Regions from separate parts of the Homo sapiens genome. Here all the other regions are linked to region 2. The links come from fine-mapping of genetic effects on gene expression. A gene starts in region 2. Each other region holds a variant in brackets. All regions are shown on one strand. Distances are between the middles of the regions. Region 1 overlaps SIRPG (signal regulatory protein gamma). Region 2 holds the start of SIRPG (signal regulatory protein gamma). Region 3 overlaps SIRPG (signal regulatory protein gamma). Region 4 overlaps LOC124904858 (a long non-coding RNA gene).

Evidence for each region.
Region 1: its variant is fine-mapped to the expression of SIRPG in whole blood (TOPMed, PIP above 0.99).
Region 3: its variant is fine-mapped to the expression of SIRPG in whole blood (TOPMed, PIP above 0.99).
Region 4: its variant is fine-mapped to the expression of SIRPG in whole blood (TOPMed, PIP above 0.99).

Annotation. Positions count from the first base shown.
Region 1 is chr20:1,626,732-1,632,203 of GRCh38, reverse strand. SIRPG (signal regulatory protein gamma) reads left to right here. Exons shown (of 6, transcript NM_018556.4): 5 at 1,898-1,982; 6 at 2,568-3,052. The coding sequence ends at 1,980. Among named protein-coding and RNA genes, the nearest start is that of SIRPG-AS1, 4.0 kb to the left of the region's middle. The variant G/A (reference allele first, on the strand shown) is at 2,649.
Region 2 is chr20:1,655,303-1,660,774 of GRCh38, reverse strand. It overlaps SIRPG (signal regulatory protein gamma), which reads left to right and starts at 2,996. Exons shown (of 6, transcript NM_018556.4): 1 at 2,996-3,133. The coding sequence starts at 3,061.
Region 3 is chr20:1,634,405-1,639,876 of GRCh38, reverse strand. SIRPG (signal regulatory protein gamma) reads left to right here. Exons shown (of 6, transcript NM_018556.4): 3 at 3,372-3,689; 4 at 4,278-4,610. SIRPG-AS1 (SIRPG antisense RNA 1) reads right to left here. Exons shown (of 3, transcript NR_110090.1): 2 at 2,527-2,671. Among named protein-coding and RNA genes, the nearest start is that of SIRPG-AS1, 3.6 kb to the right of the region's middle. RefSeq lists an enhancer at 3,962-4,787. The variant C/A (reference allele first, on the strand shown) is at 3,360.
Region 4 is chr20:1,728,701-1,734,172 of GRCh38, reverse strand. LOC124904858 (a long non-coding RNA gene) reads left to right here. Exons shown (of 3, transcript XR_007067498.1): 3 at 947-997. Among named protein-coding and RNA genes, the nearest start is that of SIRPG, 74 kb to the right of the region's middle. The variant G/T (reference allele first, on the strand shown) is at 2,636.

The sequences.
Region 1 (5,472 bases), 29 kb after region 2:
CTATGCTGCTGCAATTGTACCCAGCAACTCTTAAGTCAACCGAAGATCTTTGAGTGCTTTGACCCAAATGTCCACTCCCACATCTCAGGGTCCCACAACTTCCCCATCAGGGCCCTACCCCAGCATAGCAACCGTTGAAGCTGAGATTCATCCTCCTCTGTGATTCTGCTACTCTTTTAATGATGTCCAGGGCCCAACCCTCTATTCTTTCTGCCCTCTAGCCACAAGAGATAAGAAAGTGCAGTGCTGCCAAGAAGTCCTCTTGCTTTCACGCTGAACCTTAACTCATAATCAATCACTCGTAGCTTCTCAGCATATTTCCCCAAAAAAAATATGCCCAGTGATAGCCATGGAACAAGTTAGTCCTTATAACTACCATTTCCCAATTTGTTTCAAAAGCCTGATGCCAAGGAATTTCCTGCCTGTGGTTACGCCATCCCAGCTTACTGCCAGTGAAAGTTTTATCAATTGCATCCCAGCCATGGTGCCCAGCCCCACTCACTGCCAGCCCTGAGGTCCTCATTGCGAGCTGATGAGTATTCAGGCTTCAAATTTATATTTTAGAGTAAGCTTTACAGACAACTTACCAAGGTCAGTTTCTCTGTAAGGCAGACTAGAGATGGATACAGGAATGCAGGAAGCATCCTGAAGAGCTGTAGGGTCAGCATGCCTCAGGAAATGGGGAGGCAGGACTGTAGGAGGAGCGAGGTGCTGAGCTACAGTGCAGGTAGAACAAAGACCCAGCTGCTCCTGCGGAGGATCCCAAGGGCTGAGAGCGTCATGTAGTGTTTTTTAATTGAGGAGAGAAGCGTGGCCTTCCTATTTTCAATTCAGCCAATCTTTCTTGTGGGCTGTCCCCTAGAAGGAGGAGTGAACTTGGAATTGGGCAGTGCAGCTTTCCTCAAGGGAGAAGAAGTCCCAGAGAGCCACCCAGCTGAGAACTGCCGGCCTCCAACACCCCAGCAGCCACAGATGCTGAGTTCTCCATTTCTTCCTTAAGGACCCACCAGCACCATTTTATTTATTTAAAATATACTGTAATATCTTTAATGGCCCAAACTGCTCGCGTTAAAAATGTTGATTTTAAAAGCCTGAACTGCTCATGTTAAAAATGCAGCGTCCAAACATGTGCTTCCCCGTAACTGAGTGTGCCCAACTAACAGAAAGATTTCAGATGACACCTGCACTGGGGTGGAGGTGGCCTAGGTGACATCTGAGGCCCTCCCAAGCATGAGACCCATTTCCGTGACTCACCAGGATGTTTTCTAGCCGGAAGGTTTCATTATGTCCAGTGTTCCATGGCTCCTCCAAGTTCTGAGAACACGGAGTCCTCCCCTTACTTCTGGGGCTAAGCAGGGAACCTGCAACTCTCATTGTGAAGCCATCCTCAAGCCACCTGCCTACCCTTTTATAGTCATTAAAATGTCCCTAGGAATTTGGACTTGTTTTGTTCCAAAGGACATGGTCTCAGGGATCAACCTAAGGAACACTAGTGATGAGCTTCTTTAGGTTTGAATGCAAGTAACCTTGTGACCCTCCCTAAAATCCATGGGCCTCAGTTTCCCTAGCAGAATGGAATGACAATCCCTGCTCCCATAGGCTTGTGAGGGTCAAGTGAGGAACCCCGTTGCCACATGTATGAATACCTGAGTACACACCCCCTCCACCTCTTCCCTCCAGGAGAATAAGCTGGCAACCTGGGACAGGATGAGTGAGAATGGGGAGCCTCTTTCTGTGGCTTCTGCCTTGTGCTGGAGTGAAGATAGCCTGGGCAGGATGCAGGTTCAAAGGTGGGGCATAGATGGGCCCAGGCAGCCTCAGATGGGGTAAGTGGAGGCCCCTACAATGGCCTCCCAAGTGGTCTCTCTCATAGCCCCTCGTCTTCCCTGATTTCCAGGCCCGGCATCATCCCTTACTGCGCTGCTCCTCATAGCTGTCCTCCTGGGCCCCATCTACGTCCCCTGGAAGCAGAAGACCTGACTGTAAGTACAAGGAAGGGAGGACAGACCAAGGGCTGTCTCAGAAGGGCAAGGCCAACAGGAAGGCCCAGCCCACATGCCATGCAGCACCAGGGTCCGTGGAGTTAAGCTCCCTCCGCACCCTCGGAAGTCTTGGGGAACCCTTTAAAAGGCTCCCAACCCACAGAAATTATGTGGGTGGTGTACAATGTGGGATGCTTGAAATGTGTTCAAAGATGTCCACAGTGCCCTAGGAGTTTCATGGAGGCAGTGATGAGTGGGTGGTCCCTTGCAGGCTATCTGTAGATTATTTGAATGCTGGGACTCCATGGGGTCAGAGAAATCCACATTGTAAACTAATGTTGAGAAACCCAAATGGGAAGCCCTGAAGGCTGTTTGTGCTCTGACCCTCTGTGTGTCTGAGTGGAAGGAATATTGGAAAGGGCATCAGGACTTGGCAGGATGGCTGAGCAGGCAGAGTTCTATCAGGACTGCCTGTCCACCAGTGACAGGTATCCCAGGAGACCAGCCCCGAGAACATAACAGACTCTCAGGAAACATGTCTTGAAAGATGAGCAGATGACTAAGTGTGGATGTGTTTTCCTACAGCTCCTTCCTTCCTCCCCTGCCACGTGGGACCCTCATCTCTGCTGCCTCCTTCCTTTCCTGAGAGGCTCAGCTTGAGAGAAT[G/A]AGCCAGTGAGAAGCTTCTCTAGACTTGGCTCCAAACATCTCCCCTCCCAAGACATCTGCCTGCCCACAGGCTCCTGTTGCTCCTTCACACAGACCTGGATGCCCCAGAGCAAGGTCTTCATTCATGGTCCTGAGCAGGTGCCATGGGATTGGGCTCTGGGCACTGACTTAACGGCACCTCCCTAGAAGGCGAGAAACATGCCAAATCTAAACACACCAGGACTCCCATCCATCGCCTTGAGACTGACCGTAAACCACAGACGCTCTCCAGGTTCTCAAGAGTTATCCTGCCTTCCAGATTCCTGCCTATCCCAACTCCCCAGCCTTGTTGAGGTTCTCTATTGCCTCTTGAATACAAATGCACTCCCAAAGTGGTTTTAAGAAAATAAAAAGATTATCCTTCCTCTTTGTCTAAGGGTCCTACTCCTCACACTCAGAAACAAAGAAGCTCTCCCTGCTCTCTCTGTGATGGGAACACTAGTTCTAGCATCCTGCAGGCTTCCCCGCCCTGCTGCTCATGGCGGAAATGCTGCCGCAGTCCAAAAGCCTCCTTGACTCCCGAATCCTCCCTGATGTCTCTTTACACCCCATATTCAATTCTGCCTTCAAAATACTTATGTCCACTCGTGAGATGGTAAGTGTTTAAAAATGGACTCTCTTAAAGGAAAAAAAAAGCTGATTTGTTGTACTTGACAATTTCTGTGGTATAATCACCCCCAACATGGCCAGTTTCAAGCTACCAGAAGTTTAACAACTGGATTGCAAAATTCCTGAAACTTAACGGTTGGCTTTCAGGGGCCAGTCCAAGCCTGCTGCAGGAGAGCACTGAGTTACATCCCTAACCTGCACACTTCTCACCTCCATCACCCCTCCCTGTCCCGGCCAGCATCATCTCTTCCGGGAACACTTCTGTAGCCTCTGTTGGCTTTCATTTTTCAGCTACAGGGATTTTTGGAAAAGTCAAATTGTATCACTCCTCTGCTTCTTCCCCAACACAGCTGCATGGCTCCCTTCATCCCTCCTTCAAGCCTCTGCTCAATGTCACTTTATTAAAGGCACCTTTGGCAAACCACCCTGTACATAATATCAATTCTCCTGTCTACCCTGGCATTCTAATTTCTCTTATCTTGATTAATTTTTATTTAGCATTTATTACCATAAGCATTATAACGAATACAGGCAGCCCTCGCTTTTCACAGCAGTGCAAGATTGCAAGAATGACTGTGCAGCCGGAAACCCAGGAAAGCAATCTCCACATCCAATCAGAAAAACAATGATCATATTGTGACCTTTACAATTTTTTGTCAAAATATAGGAAACTCTCATAGTGTCAGTTACAAATGTAGAAGGCAATAAAAAATAATAAATGAATATTTATTAGTACCCTGTAATTCAAAACATTGGAAACATCAAGTGTTTCAGTATTTTATTTCTTTGTAAAAATGTTTCAAGAGTAGTTGGAAGAGTGCTTACCTCCTTCTTGTACACTTCGGATATGGAGCAAACATCCTTTCTATCTGGGTGTTTTATCACCTTCCTCTCTAAGTTTGGATTTGTTTCCAGCACCTTATCATTTGCACTTTCAGTGTCGTGAAATCTCTGCAAAAGTTCCTTTCACGTGAAGATTTTTGCTGTTGTCACATCCTCAGGGACACCTTCGCCCTATTTGTCAGTACCCCATCCCGTATCTGTTAAATTCACCTTCTCTAAGTCCTGCGGGCTGCCTATCTGAAGTTTTTCAAACACTACCAGGGTCTACGTTGCCTCACCAGCTATTCATGCTTCTATAACTCCACTGACATACAATTTGAACTTTATCTCCAGCATTTTCACTGCTCATTTATTCACTGCATTTTCACTGTGGTTGTCCAATCTCTCTTTCAATTATTTGTTTCCCAAAAATGTCACATGGGCTCATCACCAGTTACATGAGGTTGCAGTCTTATGTGAGCCTGTGCCCCTGGCCTGTGGACTTCACAAGTGCCTCTCAGTTTTTTCCCCTATGGTGGGACAGGATGGCCAGAGGGGGCTGGAGTTGGGTGCTTGCCTTCCCCAGGTAGGTTAGGCTCTGATCAAAGCCCAGCAGATTAGGCACTGGTAAAATAGTTTCTCCTGAGAGCTGGGCTTGGTAAGAAGAAAGAATGCTCTGGTGTAGTTCAGAATGATTCGCTTTCCCCTCCACACCCCCCAGGAAGCACAAGTGAATGTTTCTCTCATATTCACTCTGAGCACCTAATCAAGCTCCTGGAGGTAAATCTCACAACAGTGTTGGAGTTCCCTGCGATTGGGTCCTGCTGGAATCTGTTCCTCAGACTGGCCCACACCAAGCCTCTAGCAATTCTTCAATTACAGTGCAGGTTTTCCTACCCTGGCACTGGTTCCCATGGAGGTTTTGGCTTCAGGAAGTTGTAATTCTCTATATCATTTTGTCTAACTTCCAGTTTTGGAGACAATGGTCTGCTCTGTGACCTCATTTCTCTGACAGACCTGAGAAGAGTTGCCATTTCTTATTTGCTCAGCTTGTTACTTGATGTTGGCCCTAGGGACTTTTTGCAGGGGACATCCAGGAGTTTTGGTTCCATCCTTAAAGGCTGCTACAGTAACAAGACCTCAAACTTTCCACACCCAGAATTACAGTCTCTGAAAATCCAAACTCAGTCCTTAGCTACAGGGCCCTGTGGATCAGGGCTGTCAACTGAGGAAGGGCCAAGGGAACCCTGGCATGAAGTGAGTGCCCCTGGGACAGAGAGCAGGCCCAGAGCAGTCAAACTGTCTCCACTACTGTCCAAGGCTCCCAGGCGTGGGAACCCCAAGGTGGATATCA
Region 2 (5,472 bases):
CCTGCTGTGATGAGTCAGGGTGAAATATGGCAGATAAAGGAGAATTTTGGCTCATGGACTCCCAGGTTCCTGGTCCTCTCAAACATTCAGATTTTATCTATGCTTCCCCAAGTCACCTAAATTTAAATTTCAATTCTCCACGTGATTTCCACAAAAATTGTAAGCATCTGTGTACTTAGTTGATCTTTACTGAAGGATTGAAGTTCACAGGAAGGCACTTGCTGCTCTAAGCACAGATTCTGCCATCTTCCTGACACTATACTATGCATTTTTGAGTCATATACGCCCAATTCTTATTTTTGGAGACATAATACTTTATGACTCACACCTCTCAAAGTAATGTAGTAATGTGGATAGGTAAAAATAGAGCAATAGGAAAAGATATACCACAATATTGTGGTATATTTTTACCTATCCACATTACTTTGTTTGGGTGTGTCTCTGTGCTGTACCACAGGAAATTTCCCCTACATAATCACCCAGCTTACTAACTTACTATTATACTTATTTATGTATAGTCAGCTAGTCAACCTATTAAGTTTTTTTAAAAAATTTCAGCACTGATTATGTTTTCATTTCCAAAGTCTGTGTTTTGGTATTTTTTCAAGATGGTTGTTGTTACCTCATGCCCGCCTATTTCTGTTTCATATTATTACATGCCTGATGTTGGTTTATGAATTTACTTCTCTTTTGTTTTCCTTATAAGATCATTAAGTATACTAACTTTAAAGAACTTTACACATTTTGTTTTTTCATATTTGCTCAGGTGTGAAGTTCTTTTGATTGCTATTTGTTTTTGAGTTATTGTTTTTCTTGAATTTGTTAGCTGCAGTGCTGTTCCTCAAATCTTTGGTGATTCTTGCTTGCACTTCCGTCTTCCCAGGAATAATTCCCCATGTGATCATGGGTTGTCAGGGCCTCGTGGAGCATGGCACCTGCCCCAGCCTCACTATGAGGGCTGCTCCTAATTGAGGCTATAGCTTCTTCTCTGCTTTCTTCCTGAGGGATGTCTCTCCCTTCCTGCAAGAGGTATCATAGTACAACCATTAAAAGTGAAGGCTGTGGAGTGTGGCAGCCTATGTTCCAGTTCTAAAAGCCGGGTGATCTTGAGCAAATTCATTACTCTCCATGTGCCTCGGGTTTTCTCACCTGTGAAAGGAGGTTAATGGTTGAGCTTACCTCATGGGGTCAGAGCAATGATTTAATGACATTACCAATAGAAAAATGCTTGGCACCATATCTGGAGCACAGGAAACTCTCAATAAATGATAGCTGTTATAATTCCTTCATGTCATATAGAAGCCAATTGCTTGTATTCAAGTGTAATTAGACATTGATTCATATATTCTTTTCATTTTGTGTTTTCACTACTGTGGGTGTGGAGAAGGAGGGGAAGATTTCACCCTGTGTACATCTGCCACATTAAAACAGGACTTTCAATTAAAACATGATAACATTTACAATTTGATTTGACAATTATTCATGACAGATTAAGAACCTAAAACCCACATGTGAGATGAAGGATTCTGGACAGGTCTTTCTTAGTCATAGATGCTGGAAGAGAAATCATTTCTTTTAACAAGGTGGCTTTTCTAAGGCACAACGGTGGCAGAGAACCAGTGGACTCTTCCTGTACACAGAAAATAATTATAGCCATGTTTTTTTGCTTATAATTAATTATGAGTCAAGCATTCAGTATGGCTTATATTATTCCTACCATAGCTCTACAAGGTGCATATTCTAACATTTATTTACATACAATCAAACCAAGGCTCAGAGAAGTAGTGTCTTTTTGAAAATCACACAGCTGGAAATTGTAAGAGGAGGAATTAATCTATGGTTGAACAAGGAGCGGGATTTAGAGAATCCAGAGGGAGAAACTGATTTCAGGGTGGCAGCGAGAGTCCAAATACACTATATAAGCTGGGTCTCAGGAGGCCTGGGTTGCTGGGAGAAAGCCACTGGTGGGCAACTCAGCATGCAGGAGGGATCCATTCAAAAGCAACATTTGAGTTCCCGCACTTCACCTGGCACCGTGAGTATCAATAATGACCTACTGGGTTTCAGGCATGATATGCTCATTACCTCTTTAATCGTCACTAAAACACTGCACAAAAAGACTTACTATTCCCAGTTTAGGAGATTGAAACTGAGCATAGGAGGGCCCAGCGACTTCCCCAACTCCTTGGCACACACTCTTGGCAGGAGCATGGATTTTTCCTCTTTCCTCATTTCCCATCCGAACTCAGTGATGAATGAAATAGGTGCTCTGTGTGTAGAAGAAAGGGTATTGAAATTGATGCGACGGCCCCAGGAACCTGCCCACCATAATCTTCCCTCATGATAACCCTATCCCCTTTCCATAACCCACAATCCCCACCTCACTCCACAAAGCAGTTGCTTATTACCTCAAACCCAGTTTCTCTCCTGGAAGGAGTCAAGAAATAATTCCTTCTGCTGGGTGCAGGCACATGAAAGTGCTAAGGTCCACAAGAGACTGAATTTGGGCTAAGTGTTGCCAATTATAGCAATTTGGAATAGAAAATCATTTCAGGAGAAGATCTGGTTCCTCTCCAGTGTTGAGCAGGTCCTGTGAACTCTTCTCCTACGTCCAGCGGAGTGGCATTTGGTTGAGGCTGGTGCAGAACAAGACCACAAGCCAACCACATCCTAGGGTCTTGAAATAAAGACTTTAGAAAACAATACCTAACAACAGATCTTTCTTGACTTAAAAGCCTCAAATGGCAAATCACCAAGAAGACCTGAAAATGGGTTTGGGGACACGAGGAGGGAGCACAGGTCCCAGGCAGGCAGGAAGCATTATTTCTGCTAACCCTGTCTGATTATCCTGAAAATGGAGCACGATTAACTCCTTGCTTTGTAGCTGCCTACTGTGCCTGATTTGTAAGTCACAATCTAGAAGCAGGTTACTGTTGCATTCCATCATAGCCACTTCCTCTTGAATTGAGGGAGGCAGGGCTTGTCTTCTGTCTTCAGAGCAGGGCCTGACATCTCCCCAGAACAGACGTTTGAACAGAGCAGGCTTCTGAGGTCTCCAAAATGCCTGTCCCAGCCTCCTGGCCCCATCCTCCTGGTCCTTTCCTGCTTCTGACTCTACTGCTGGGACTTACAGGTGAGCATTGCATTGGGCTAGAACCCTTTCTCCCTGCTTCCTGGACCTAGCCTTGCCCCTGGACTTGCAGCAATTTCAGATAAGCACAAGCACTGCCAAGGAAGGTCAAGGACTGGACATTGTCCAAGAGCAGAAGATCAGGGAGCTGAGCACTTTCTCTGTGGATCTGCAGCTGGCTACCAGAGGCATCAAACCTTGTGAGGCTTCTGCCACCATCACAATTAGTTACATTTTTATAATATTTTATTTGACAAACACAGAAGAATCATTATTAAATCCTTACCTGTCTTGAGTCCTCCTACCCATTTTTGTGTGCCCTCCTCCTCTTTAAGAAGTTCCACATTTCATGCTTACAGCGTCCTATATTCCTTTCTTAGGGCTTCCACAACAAAGCACCACAGACTCAGTAACTAAAACAATAGACATTTACTTTCTTTCTTTCAGTTCTGGAGGCTGAATTGCAAAATCAAGATGCCAGCAGGGTTAGTTTCTACTGAGGTCTTTCTCCTTGGCTTGTAGAAGGCCATCTCCTCCATGTGTCTTGACACATGGTCTTCCTCTGTGTGTGTCTGTATTCTCATTTTCTCTTATGAGAACATCAGCCATATTGGATTAAGGCTCCCCGCCAGTGACCTCATTTAACTAAATTGCTTCACCCATTTATGCCTAGTGCTCCGTTATTGGATCACTAAGCTTGCGGGAGTTATTTATATCCTACTGCTCAAGGGCATCGCCAAGGTCTGATTTTTCAAATTAAAAAAAAATTGCAACCTCGGGCATAAATGGGTTAAAGACCTTGTCTCCAAATATGGTCAAATTCTAAGGCGCTGGGGATTGGGGCTTCAACCCATTCGTTTTGGGGGCACATTCAGCCCATAACAGGCACCACCATCTCCCTTGGTCATCTTGACTTTCCTCTGGAGAATTTATTTTCCCTTCCCCCAGGCAGACAGGATTGGGAGGTCTTTCCTGGTGCCACCTGAGAGAGCCCTGTTCACAGCTCCCAGACAGGCTGCCTGTCTTCACCCCTTTTTCAGACCATGCAGCTGACCCCCGGTCACAGGGCTGGGCACAATAGCCTCTCAGTTGCCCACTGGGCCCTGCTGTGATGTCATCTCACAGGTCTTAGAGGGCAAGGTCTCACTTTTCAAATTATTTTTTTTACACATACACTGTACCCAAATGACAGCAGTAATAGTTCAGCAATTGCTCTCTTCCTGTAAGGCAGATGCACTTCTTAGCATTTTGTGTGTATTAAGTCAACTAATCCTCACAGCATCCCTGTGTGGAAGCTATAACTCTTGTGCTCTATTTGCAAATGGGGAGTGAGGCAGAGGCAGGAACCTGTTCATTGTCCCCTACTTCAGTCCATGGAGCAGTTGGGATCAAGTCCAGGTTGACCAGTTCCAGAGTTTATCACCCTTTTAACCATGTTATGCTATGTGTAGAAATATTAGAAAATGCAGGCAAGCAAACATTAGATTAATAATCACCCATCACACCAGTCAGAAACAATCAGAGGTAAAACACTAGTGTATGTATGTTTTCCCAAAATGTTAAAAATGTGTTGGATGGTTTCTATGTGCCAAATATTTTACTGAGATTTTTAAATTTGTCATAATTGTAATTAATGCACAAAACAACCTTATATACTAACATGATAAGCCAAACTTTTATATATATTTGTGAATGTGTATATATACACATTATATACACATATATATGCACATGTGCCTATGCATGTACATGTACATGCACAGATGAGATTTCATTTTTAATCATTGGTTCTCTTTCTATTTTCAGTGAAATTTTTAACAAAATAAATATTTTATTTTATTTTTATTTGACAAAAGTATGTATACTTATGTACAACATATTAAGAAATATGCATACATTGTGGAATGACTAATTTGAACTAATAAACATATGCATTACCTTACATATTTATCATTTTTTATTGTGAGAACTCGTAAACTCTGCTCTCTCAGCAGTTTTCAAGAATACAATTCATATTATTAAGTATAAACACCACATTGTACAATAGATATCTTGAACTTATTTCTCTTATTTAAATTGAAATTTTGTATCCTTTGACTAATATCTCCCCAACTACACCCCCTCTCTAGCCCCCGATAAACACCATTCTACTTTCTACTTCTATGAGCTCAACTTTTTAGATTCTTCATACGTGAAATCATACAGTGTTTGTCTTTCCGTGCCTGGCTTATTTCACTTAGCAGAATGTCCTCCAGGTTCATCCATGTTGTTGCAAATGACAGGGTTTCCCTTTTTGTAAGGCTGATTAGAATTTCATTGTGCATATATGCTACATTTTCTTT
Region 3 (5,472 bases), 21 kb after region 2:
CCCTATTTAATAAATGGGACTGGGAAAACTGGTTAGCCATATGCAGAAAACTGAAACCAGACCCCTTCCTTACACCTTATACAAAAATTAACTGAAGATGGGTTAAAGACTTAAATGTAAAACCCAAAACCATAAAAACCCTAGAAGAAAACCTAGGCAATACCATTCAGGCATAGGCATGGGCAAAGACTTCATGACGAAAATGCCAAAAGCAATTGCAACAAAAGTGAAAGTTGACAAATGGTATCTAATTAAACTAAAGAGATTCTGCACAGGAATAGAAACTATCATGAGAGTGAACAGGCAACCTACAGAATGGGAGAAAATTTTTGCAATTTACCCATCTGACAAAGGTCTAATATCCAGAATCTACAAGGAACTTAAACAAATTCACAAGAAAAAAACAAACAACCCCATCAAAAAGTATGCAAAGTATATGAACACACACTTCTCAAAAGAAGACATTTATGTGGCCAACAAACATATGAAAAAAAGCTCAACATCACTGATCATTAGAGAAATGAAAATCAAAACCACAATGAGATACCATCTCATGCCAGTCAGAATGGTGATTATTAAAAAGTTAGGAAACAATAGATGCTGGTGATGCTGTGGAAAAATAGGAGCGTTTTTACATTCTTGGTGGGAATGTAAATTAGTTCAACGATTGTGGAAGACAGTGTGGTGACTCCTTAAGGATCAAGAACCAGAGATACCATTTGACCCAGCAATCCCATTACTGGGTATGTAACCAAAGGAATATAAATCATTCTACTATGAGGACACATGCACATGTATGTTTATTGCAGCACTATTTACAATAGCAAAGACATGAAACCAACCCAAATGCCCATCAGTGATAGACTGGACAAAGAAAAGGTGGTACATATACACCATGGAATACTATGCAGCCATAAAAAAGAATGAGTTCATGTCCTTTGCGGGGCCATGGATGAAGCTGGAAGCCATTATCCTCAGCAAACTAACACAGGGACAGAAAAGCAAACACCACATGTTCTCACTCATAAGTGGGAGTTGCACAATGTGAACACATGGACGCAGGGAGGGGAACAACACACACCAGGGCCAGTCAAGGGGTGGGGGGGTGAGGGGAAGGAGAGCATTAGGACAAATAGCTAATGCATGCAGGGCTTAAAATCTAGATGATGGGTTGATAAGTGCAGCAAACCACCATGGCAAACATAACCTATAAAACAAACCTGCATATTCTGCACTTGTATCCCAGAACTTAAAGTAAAATAATAATAATAAAAAGATGTCACAGAGGACTCTGTTCCCTCCTCCTTCCAAAATGCTTCCAGCTTTACCTATGATCTTATTTTTTTTTGAAAGCCAGTTGTCCAGACTTGGTGGTTTTGCTTTTATTATCATTTGAGTTTTTCATGAGCTGCAGGGAGCAGGATTTGAGCCTTTTCTTGGTGTTTCTACTCCTCTATGTTCTGCTGCCTAAAGAATAAGTGTGTAGATTCAGAAGTAGTAATGACCAAACCTCTTGATAACAGCCATAGGGCTCATTTATTAAGCACCTGCTGCATACCAGGCTCCGTGCTTGCCTTCATCCTCCCTCACCTTACCAGGGTGGGTTTTTTATCCACTTTTGGCCCTTTGCTAGCTGGGGTCCCCTCAGACCCTGGTCCTATAAGGGACTCACACGAGGACCCCCTCAAGGCAATAAAGGGAGGATTAAAGAGCTGAGAGGTACAGAGGGAGCAGCCAGCATCAGGCTCCCAAGAAGCCCTCAATAAATGGCAACTGGTTACAGCCTCTCAGCCCTCTAGGGATGCCCAATGCTGCTGGTGTCTTGATGACTTGACTTCTTCAAGTGACACCCTTCTTACTGTGCCCATAAAATGTTTGCATGTGGTAGGGAGCAAGTTAATATTTACAAATGCAAGTATGCCTAATATGTGTTTCCTGATGACTGCTATAGGAGGTGCAGGGTAATAATTAGCAATTTGGAGACACGTTTAGGACTCATCTACAGGGAGAAACTACCCTCATTTTTCTGATTCTCCAGTTTGTGTGCTTTCAGGACCCAGGATAGATTTCTGCCTGTTGGGGTGGCCTAGATCTTTGTCTCTTGTAATGAATTAACGATGAAGAAATCACCCACCTTTGGCTTTCTTAGTACTCAGTGATCATTGTTTTTGGACCCAACCTGGCCCAACTGAAGACCTAGATTCCAAGAAACCTTCCCTCTTTTCAAATTTGGGACTTGGCACAGATTAGACCTGCTAACTAAAAAAAATAATGATTGATAGGAAGGCCAAAGGAAATAGCATTTATCTGGGAAATAAAGAGTTGCAATTTGGGAACCCTGAGTCATGGTAGTCCTGAACAGTGTCCCATAGGGCAATGCAGGAAAAGTTTTGTACTGGGGACTTTCACAAAATGTTGTTTTTGAAAACAGTTCATTGCCTGGCAGAAATGCTAAACTGCAAACTCGTATGAATTGGTTACTTAATTAGGACACTCCAGGATGAGAGAAATCAAAATCCCATGTACCTTGACTTCAGTCCATTGTTATCCAGGTCTACAGCAACATCCTGTGGCTTGACCTTTAGCAGGTGTGAGTGCAATGCTCTTACAAACGCTTGACTCCATGTTAAAGCTTTAGCCTTAACTACTTCATTTTCTTTCAAAAACTGTACTGGAATATTTGTGAAAAGAATGAAAAATATGGAATAAATTCATAAATACACAAAGAGAGAGAGCTCTAGGTATATGTCAAGTCTGGATTAAAGACAGATCTGTGTTTATTTTTATGAAGCATCTTCTGACTTTGATCCAAAGCAAAACTTCTTCCATGGCCCCATTTAATCCTTGTTGCACCCCTGGGAAGGGAAAATGCTGCTGTCCCACTTTGCAGATGAGGGGCTGCATGTTCCAGGCCACCCCTCTCATGGGCTGAGCAGCCTGGTTGCAGGTCTCATGGTGGCGCCACTTTGCCATTGTTCCCTACTTTGGCTTCTGTAAACACCCTCTCTGAGGTTGGTGAGCTCTCCTGGGGAAACAGGCTAGCACCAGTTAATACACAGAGGGAGAACAATCAGTAACTTTGTTCCTGTGCCCAGATTGGTGGAAGTCACCCTATGTGGAGAGGAGGACTTTGAACTCAGACCTGGACTTCCCTCTGGGACCTTTCCCTACACTGTCTGACCTGGGGCTGGTCGTCACCTCTTCCAACCTTTGCATCCTGCTCTGTAAAATGAGAATAAGAACACCATCCTCTCCACATTATTAGAAGGATTAAAATTAATGTATCTGAAGGTTCTTAACAGTGTCACACACTCATCGTTAGTGATTGTCATCTCAGTCATGTCTCCTGTTTATCGATG[C/A]CCCTTTTGTAGCCAAACCCTCTGCCCCCGTGGTATTGGGCCCTGCGGCGAGGACCACACCTGAGCATACAGTGAGTTTCACCTGTGAGTCCCATGGCTTCTCTCCCAGAGACATCACCCTGAAATGGTTCAAAAATGGGAATGAGCTCTCAGACTTCCAGACCAACGTGGACCCCACAGGACAGAGTGTGGCCTACAGCATCCGCAGCACAGCCAGGGTGGTACTGGACCCCTGGGACGTTCGCTCTCAGGTCATCTGCGAGGTGGCCCATGTCACCTTGCAGGGGGACCCTCTTCGTGGGACTGCCAACTTGTCTGAGGCCATCCGAGGTAGAGGACCCTCACACCCAGCCCAAGCCCACACCTGGCTGTCAAGCCCACTCCCCTCTCCCCAGGCTGTTGCTCCAGAGGTTGAATGGCCTGTAATCTAATCCCTGACTATACTGCCCGCCCGCCATGCACCTAGGTGTGCTGGTCACTTACTATCATTTTATTGGCAGCGGTCAGGGGACCAGCAATCACGTGCCAAGCTCTGCGCTAGAGAGTTTCATTTATCTCACCAAGAACAACTACTATTAGTGAGTACCTACTATGAGCCAAGTCCCTATGTGCTCGGCGATTTCACTGATTTTGCTACAGTTCTTACATTCCAACTGCATGCCAGGGGTTGTGCTTGTAGATTTCACTCATTCTTAGCCTAGTAGGAGCTACCAGTCCTTGAGCACCTACTGTGCACCAGGCACTGTGCTTGGTAATTTCATTCATATGCAAAGAGCGCCCTCAATGTCTTAGCATCTGCTGCCTGCCTAGCACTGTCCTGGTGATGCCCTCACCGTGGTAGTGGGAGTTAAGTTATGGAGCCCTCCCTGTGATCTGTCTGTGCCAGAAGATCAGAGCTTCTACCCTGTGCTGTTTCAGTTCCACCCACCTTGGAGGTTACTCAACAGCCCATGAGGGTGGGGAACCAGGTAAACGTCACCTGCCAGGTGAGGAAGTTCTACCCCCAGAGCCTACAGCTGACCTGGTCGGAGAATGGAAACGTGTGCCAGAGAGAAACAGCCTCGACCCTTACAGAGAACAAGGATGGTACCTACAACTGGACAAGCTGGTTCCTGGTGAACATATCTGACCAAAGGGATGATGTGGTCCTCACCTGCCAGGTGAAGCATGATGGGCAGCTGGCGGTCAGCAAACGCCTTGCCCTAGAGGTCACAGTCCACCAGAAGGACCAGAGCTCAGATGCTACCCCTGGTGAGGTTACTCAAAATTTTTAAATTTTGTCTTTTTCTCTCATTTTAAAAGTAATATCCACACTTGCTGTAAAATAAGCTAGAAGTCTATAAATACAAAGTAAAATTTTAATGTCAGCTCCATCCCCCCAAATCCCACATGCGAAGAGTCATGACTAGTAAGAATTTGATGCACAAGTTAATAGAACTTTTGACATAAATATATGTTTAATTTTTTTTTTTTTTGAGACGGAGTCTGGCTCTGTCGCCCAGACTGGAGTGCAGTGGCGCGATCTCTGCTCACCGCAAGCTCCGCCTCCCGGGTTCACGCCATTCTCCTGTCTCAGCCTCCCGAGTAGCTGGGACTACAGGCGCCCGCCACCACGCCCGACTAATTTTTTGTATTTTTAGTAGAGATGGGGTTTCACCGTGTTAGCCAGGATGGTCTCGATCTCCTGACCTCGTGATCCGCCCGCCTCAGCCTCCCAAAGTGCTGGGATTACAGGCGTGAGCCACCGCGCCTGGCGTACATAAATATATATTTAAGGAGCAAAGAGGCAGGCAGGGGGAACCATCTTCTCATAGAGTCCTTTGCCTTCCCTTATTCCTTGAGAGTTGTTGTGCCCGTTTCTCATCAGCCCACCCTTGTGCTCCCTACTTTTTCTAACCTCTGCTTTGTTTCTGTTTCATCCAAACTTTTCCATCCTCATTTATGACCTCATCCCAGTACACCCTGACATCTGCTGTGTATGTTTCAGAAAGACAAATGTAGTTTAAAACTGTACCAGGCCTGGCGGCTCACGCCTGTAATCCCAGCACTTTGGGAGGCCGAGGCGGGCGGATCACGAGGTCAGGAGATCGAGACCATCCTGGTTAACACGGTG
Region 4 (5,472 bases), 73 kb before region 2:
CCTCTGAATCCTGCTGACTACAGCGGACATGTCTACCTAAGAGAAGAAGCTTAGATAAAATTAATATAAGTAGAAGGTCTATTTGGGCCAAATTTGAAGACTGTAACCCAGGAAACACCTCCAAGTCACTTTGGAGAATAAAGAACAGACTCGAGCTTTTAAGGAAAAAGGACAAACCAGGGGAGGGGATGATTACAAAAGTTTTTGTCAGGAATTCTCATTGCTTTACAAAAATAACATTGATTAGTAACCTTTATACGTTATTTAACTATAGAATATGACTTATAGTGTCCACATATGGCATTGTTACATTAAATTGTATCTACCTGGGGCATCAGTCAGTCTAGAGTCCACATGGCAAGCAGCCTCAAGAGATGGTTACTTAGCTGAAGGAGGGAAGTGGGACATGACTGCTTTCTCATTCCAGTGCCTCTCTGGGCCTGATAATTGAAAGGGGCATTGCATTCCTCAGATTAAAAGGTTTTTGTGCAATTTATATTAAAATACGGATGTACCCAGAATTTATTTAATTACCCTTTACTTTTTCCTGCTGTGTATTGTTTTTAAATCATTATGTAATCTAAGGGTAGCATTATGCTTTCTGTCAGGCCTCCAGCCCAAGCTCAGCCATCATATCCCCTGTGACCTGCATGAATACATCCAGATGGCCTGAAGCAAGTGAAGAATCACAAAAGAAGTGAAAATGGCCGGTGCCTGCCTTAATTGATGACACTCCACCATTGTGATTTATTCCTGCCCCACCTTAACTGGGTGATTAACCTTGTGAAATTCCTTCTCCTGCCTCAGAAGCTCCCGCACTGAGCACCTTGTGACCCCCACCCCTGCCCACAAGAGAAAAACACCCTTTGACTGTAATTTTCCACTACCCACCCAAATCCTATGAAATGGCCTCACCCCTATCTCCCTTTGCTGACTCTCTTTTCAGACTCAGCCTGCCTGCACCCAGGTGATTAAAAAGCTTTATTGCTCACACAAAGACTGTTTAGTGGTCTCTTCACATGGATGCACGTGACATTTGGTGCCATGACTCTGATCGGGGGACCTCCCTTGGGAGATCAATCCCCTGTCCTCCTGCTCTTTGCTCTGTGAGAAAGATCCACCTATGACCTCGGGTCCTCAGACCAAGCAGCCCAAGGAACATCTCACCAATTTTAAATCGGGTGAGTGGCCTCTTTTTACTCTCTTCTCCAACCTCTCTCACTATCCCTTAACCTCTTTCTCCTTTCAATCTTGGCGCCACCCTTCAATCTCTCTCTTCCCTTAATTTCAGTTCCTTTCCTTTTCTGGTAGAGACAGAGGAGATGCGTTTTATCCATGAACCCAAAACTCCGGCACCAGTCACAGGCTCGGGAAGACAGTCTTCCCTTGGTGTTTAATCACTGCGGGATGCCTGCCTGATTATTCACCCACGTTTCAGAGGTGTCTGATCACCGCAGGGACGCCTGCCTTGATCCTTCACCTTAGTGGCAAGTACCACTTTGCTGGGGCACAAATACCCCCCACCCCTTCTCTCCATGTCTCTACCCTCTCTTTTCTCTGGGCTTGCCTCCTTCACTATGGGCAACCATCCACCCTCCATTCCTCCCTCTTCTCCCTTAGCCTGTGTTCTCAAAGACTTAAAACCTCTTCAGCTCACACCTGACCTAAAACCTAAACACCTTATTTTCTTCTGCAATGCTGTTTGACTCCAAAACAAACTCGACGATGGTTCCAAATAGCCAGAAAACGGCACTTTCAATTTCTCCATCCTACAAGATCTAGATAATTCTTGTCATAAAATGGGCAAATGGTCTGAGGTGCCTGACATCCAGGCATTCTTTTACACATCGGTCCCTCCCTAGTCTCTGTTCCCAATGTGACTCACCCCAAATCCTCCTTCTTTCCCCCCCACCTGTTCCCTCAGTCCCAACCCCAAGCATCGCTGAGTCTTTTCAATCTTCCTTTCCTACTGACCCATGTGACCTCTCCCCTCCTCCCCAGACTGCTCCTCTTCAGGTCGCTCCCCGCCAAGCTAAATCAGGCTCCGATTCTTCCTTGGCCTCTGCTCCTCCACCCTATAATCCTTCTATCACCTCCCCTGTGCACACCTGGTTCAGCTTACAGTTTCATTCTGAGACTAGCCCTCCCCCACCTGCCCAACAATTTCCTCTTAGAGCGGTGGCTGGAACTGAAGGCATAGTCAGGGTACATGTGCCTTTTTCTCTATCAGACCTCTCTCAGATCAGCCAGTGTTTAGGCTCTTTCTCATCAGACCCCACTAAATATATACAGGAATTCCAATATCTAACTCTGTCCTACAATTTAACCTGGAGTGACTGAAATGTCATCCTAACTTCTACCCTATCCCCAGATGAATGGGAAAGAGTTTTTTCTCCAGCCCAATCTCACGCTGATAACTGCCGGCTTCAAGAGCCAGACCTCCAGGAAGGCATTAGAGCAGTTCCCCGAGAGGATCCCCAATGGAACTATCAGGCAGATTCCCCAGGTATAGCTAGGCAAGATTATATAATTTCCTGCCTAGTTGAAGGGTGTAAAAAGGCAGCTTACAAAGCTGTTAAAGAACTGTTAAAGAACAAAGCTTAAAGAAACTACCCAAAGTAAACATGAAAACCCC[G/T]CCCAGTTCATGGCTGGTTTGGCAGCAACCGTGAGATGCTTTACAACGCTAGACCCTGAAAGGTCAGAAGGCCGTCTTATTCTCAATATGCATTTTATCACCCAGTCAGCTCCTGACATTAAAAAAAACTTCAAAAATTAGAATCCGGCCCTCAAACCCCACAAAAGGAATTAATTAACCTCGCCTTCAAGGTGTACAATAATAGAAAAGAGTTGCAATTACTTGCCTCCACTGTGAGAGAAACCCCAGCCACATCTCCAATACACAAGAACTTCAAAACACCTAAATCCACAGTGGTCAGGCATTCCTTCAGGACCTCCTCCCCCAGGATCTTGCTTTAAGTGCCAGAAATCTGGCCACTGGGCCAAGGAATGCCTGCAGCCCAGGATTCCTCCTAAGCTGTGCCCCATCTGTGTGGGACTTCACTGGAAATCGGACTGTCCAACTCACCAGGCAGCCACTCCCAGAGCCCCTGGAACTCTGGCCCAAGGCTCTCTGACTGACTCCTTCCCAGATCTTCTTGGCTTAGTGACTGAAGACTGACATTGCCCAATCACCTCGGAAGCCTCCTGGACCATCACAGATGCTTTGGGTAACTCTTACAGTGGAGGGTAAGTCCGTCCCCTTCTTAATCAATACGGAGGCTACCCACTCCACAGTACCTTATTTTCAAGGGCCTGTTTCCCTTGCCTCCATAACTGTTGTGGGTATTGACGGCCAGGCTTCTAAACCTCTTTAAAACTCCCCAACTCTGATGCCAACTTGAAGAACAGTTTTTATGCACTTCTTTTAAGTTATCCCTACCTGCCCAGCTCCCTTATTAGGTTGAGACATTTTAACTAAATTATCTCCTTCCCTGACTATTCCTAGGCTACAGCCACACCTCATTGCCGCCCTTTTCCCCAGTTCAAAGCCTCCTTCACATCCTCCCCTTGTATCTCCCCATCTTAATCCACCATTTTGGGACACCTCTACTCCCTCTTTGGTGACCGATCATGCACCCCTTACCATCCCATTAAAACCTAATCACCCTTACCTGATCAATGCCAGTATCCCATCCCACAGCATGCTTTAAAAGGATTAAACCCTGGTATCACTTTCCTGTTACAGCATGGCCTTTTAAAGCCTATAAACTCCCCTTACTATTCCCTCATTTAACTGTCCAAAAACTGGACAAGTCTTACAGGTTAGTTCAGGATCTGCACCTTATCAACCAAATTGTCTTGCCTATCCACCCCGTGGTGCCAAACTCAGATACTCTCCTATCCTCAATACATCCCTCCGCAACCCATTATTCTGTTCTGGATCTCCAACATGCTTTCTTTACTATTCCTTTGTACCTTTCAGCCCAGCCTCTCTTCACTTTCACTTGGATTGACCCTGACACTCATCAGGCTCAGCAAATTACCTGGGCTATACTACTGCAAGGCTTCATGGACAGCCCCCATTACTTCAGTCAAGTCCAAATTTCTTCCTCATCCATTACCTATCTCAGCATAATTCTTCATGAAAACACACATGCTCTCCCTGCTGAGCATGTCCAGCTAAACTTTCAAACCCCAACCCCTTCTACAAAACAACAACTCCTTTCCTTCCTGGGCATGGTTGGATAGTTTCACCTTTGGATACCTAGTTTTACCATCCTGACTAAACCATTATACAAACTCACAAAAACAAACCTAGCTGACCCCATAGATCCTAAATCCTTTCACCACTCATCTTTCCGTTCCTTAAAAACAGCCCTAGAAGCTGCTCTCACACTAGCTCTCCTTAACTCATCCCAACCCTTTTCATTACACACAGCCGAAGTACAGGGCTGTGCGGTTGAAATTCTTACACAAGAGCCAGGACCACGCCCTGTAGCCTTCCTATCCAAACTACTTGACCTCACTGTTTTAGACTGGCTCCCACATTATTCCAGATACCACACCTGACCCCCATGACTGTATCTCTCTGATCCACCTGACATTTACTCCATTTCTCTATATTTTCTTCTTTCCTGTTCTTCACCCTGATCACACTTGGTTTATTGATGTCAGTTCCACCAGGCCTAATCGCCACTCACCAGCAAAGGCAGGCTTTGCTATAGTATCTTCCACATCTATCATTGAGGCTCCTGCTCTGCCCCCTCCACTACCTCTCAGCAAGCCAAACTCATTGCCTTAACTCAGGCCCTCACTCTTGCAAAAGGAGTACATGTCAATGTTTATACTGACTCTAAATATGCCTTCCATATCCTGCACCACCATGCTATTATATGGGCAGAAAGAGGTTTCCTCACTACGTAAGGGTCCTCCATCATTAATGCCTCTTTAATAAAAACTCTTCTCAAGACCACTTTACTTCCAAAGGAAGCTGGAGTCATTCACTGCAAAGGCCATCAAAAGGCATCAGATCCCATCACTCAGGGCAACACTTATGCCGATAAGGTAGCTAAAGAAGCAGCTAGTGTTCCAACTTCAGTCCTTCACAGCCAGTTTTTCTCCTCATCAGTAACTCCCACCTACTCCGCCACTGAAACTTCCACCTATCAATCTCTTCCCACACAAGGCAAATTGTTCTTAGACCAAGGGAAATATCTCCTTTCAGCCTCACAGGCCGATTCTATTCTGTCGTCATTTCATAACGTCTTCCTTGTAGGTTGCAAGCTGCTATCCCACCTCTTAGAACCTCTTATTTCCTTTCCATTGTGGAAATCTATCCTCAAGGAAATCACTTCTCAGCGTTCCATTGGCTATTCTACTAGTCCTCATGGATTGTTCAGGCTCCCTCCCTTCCCTACACATCAAGCTTGGGGATTTGCCCCTGCCCAGGACTGGAAAATTGACTTTACTCAC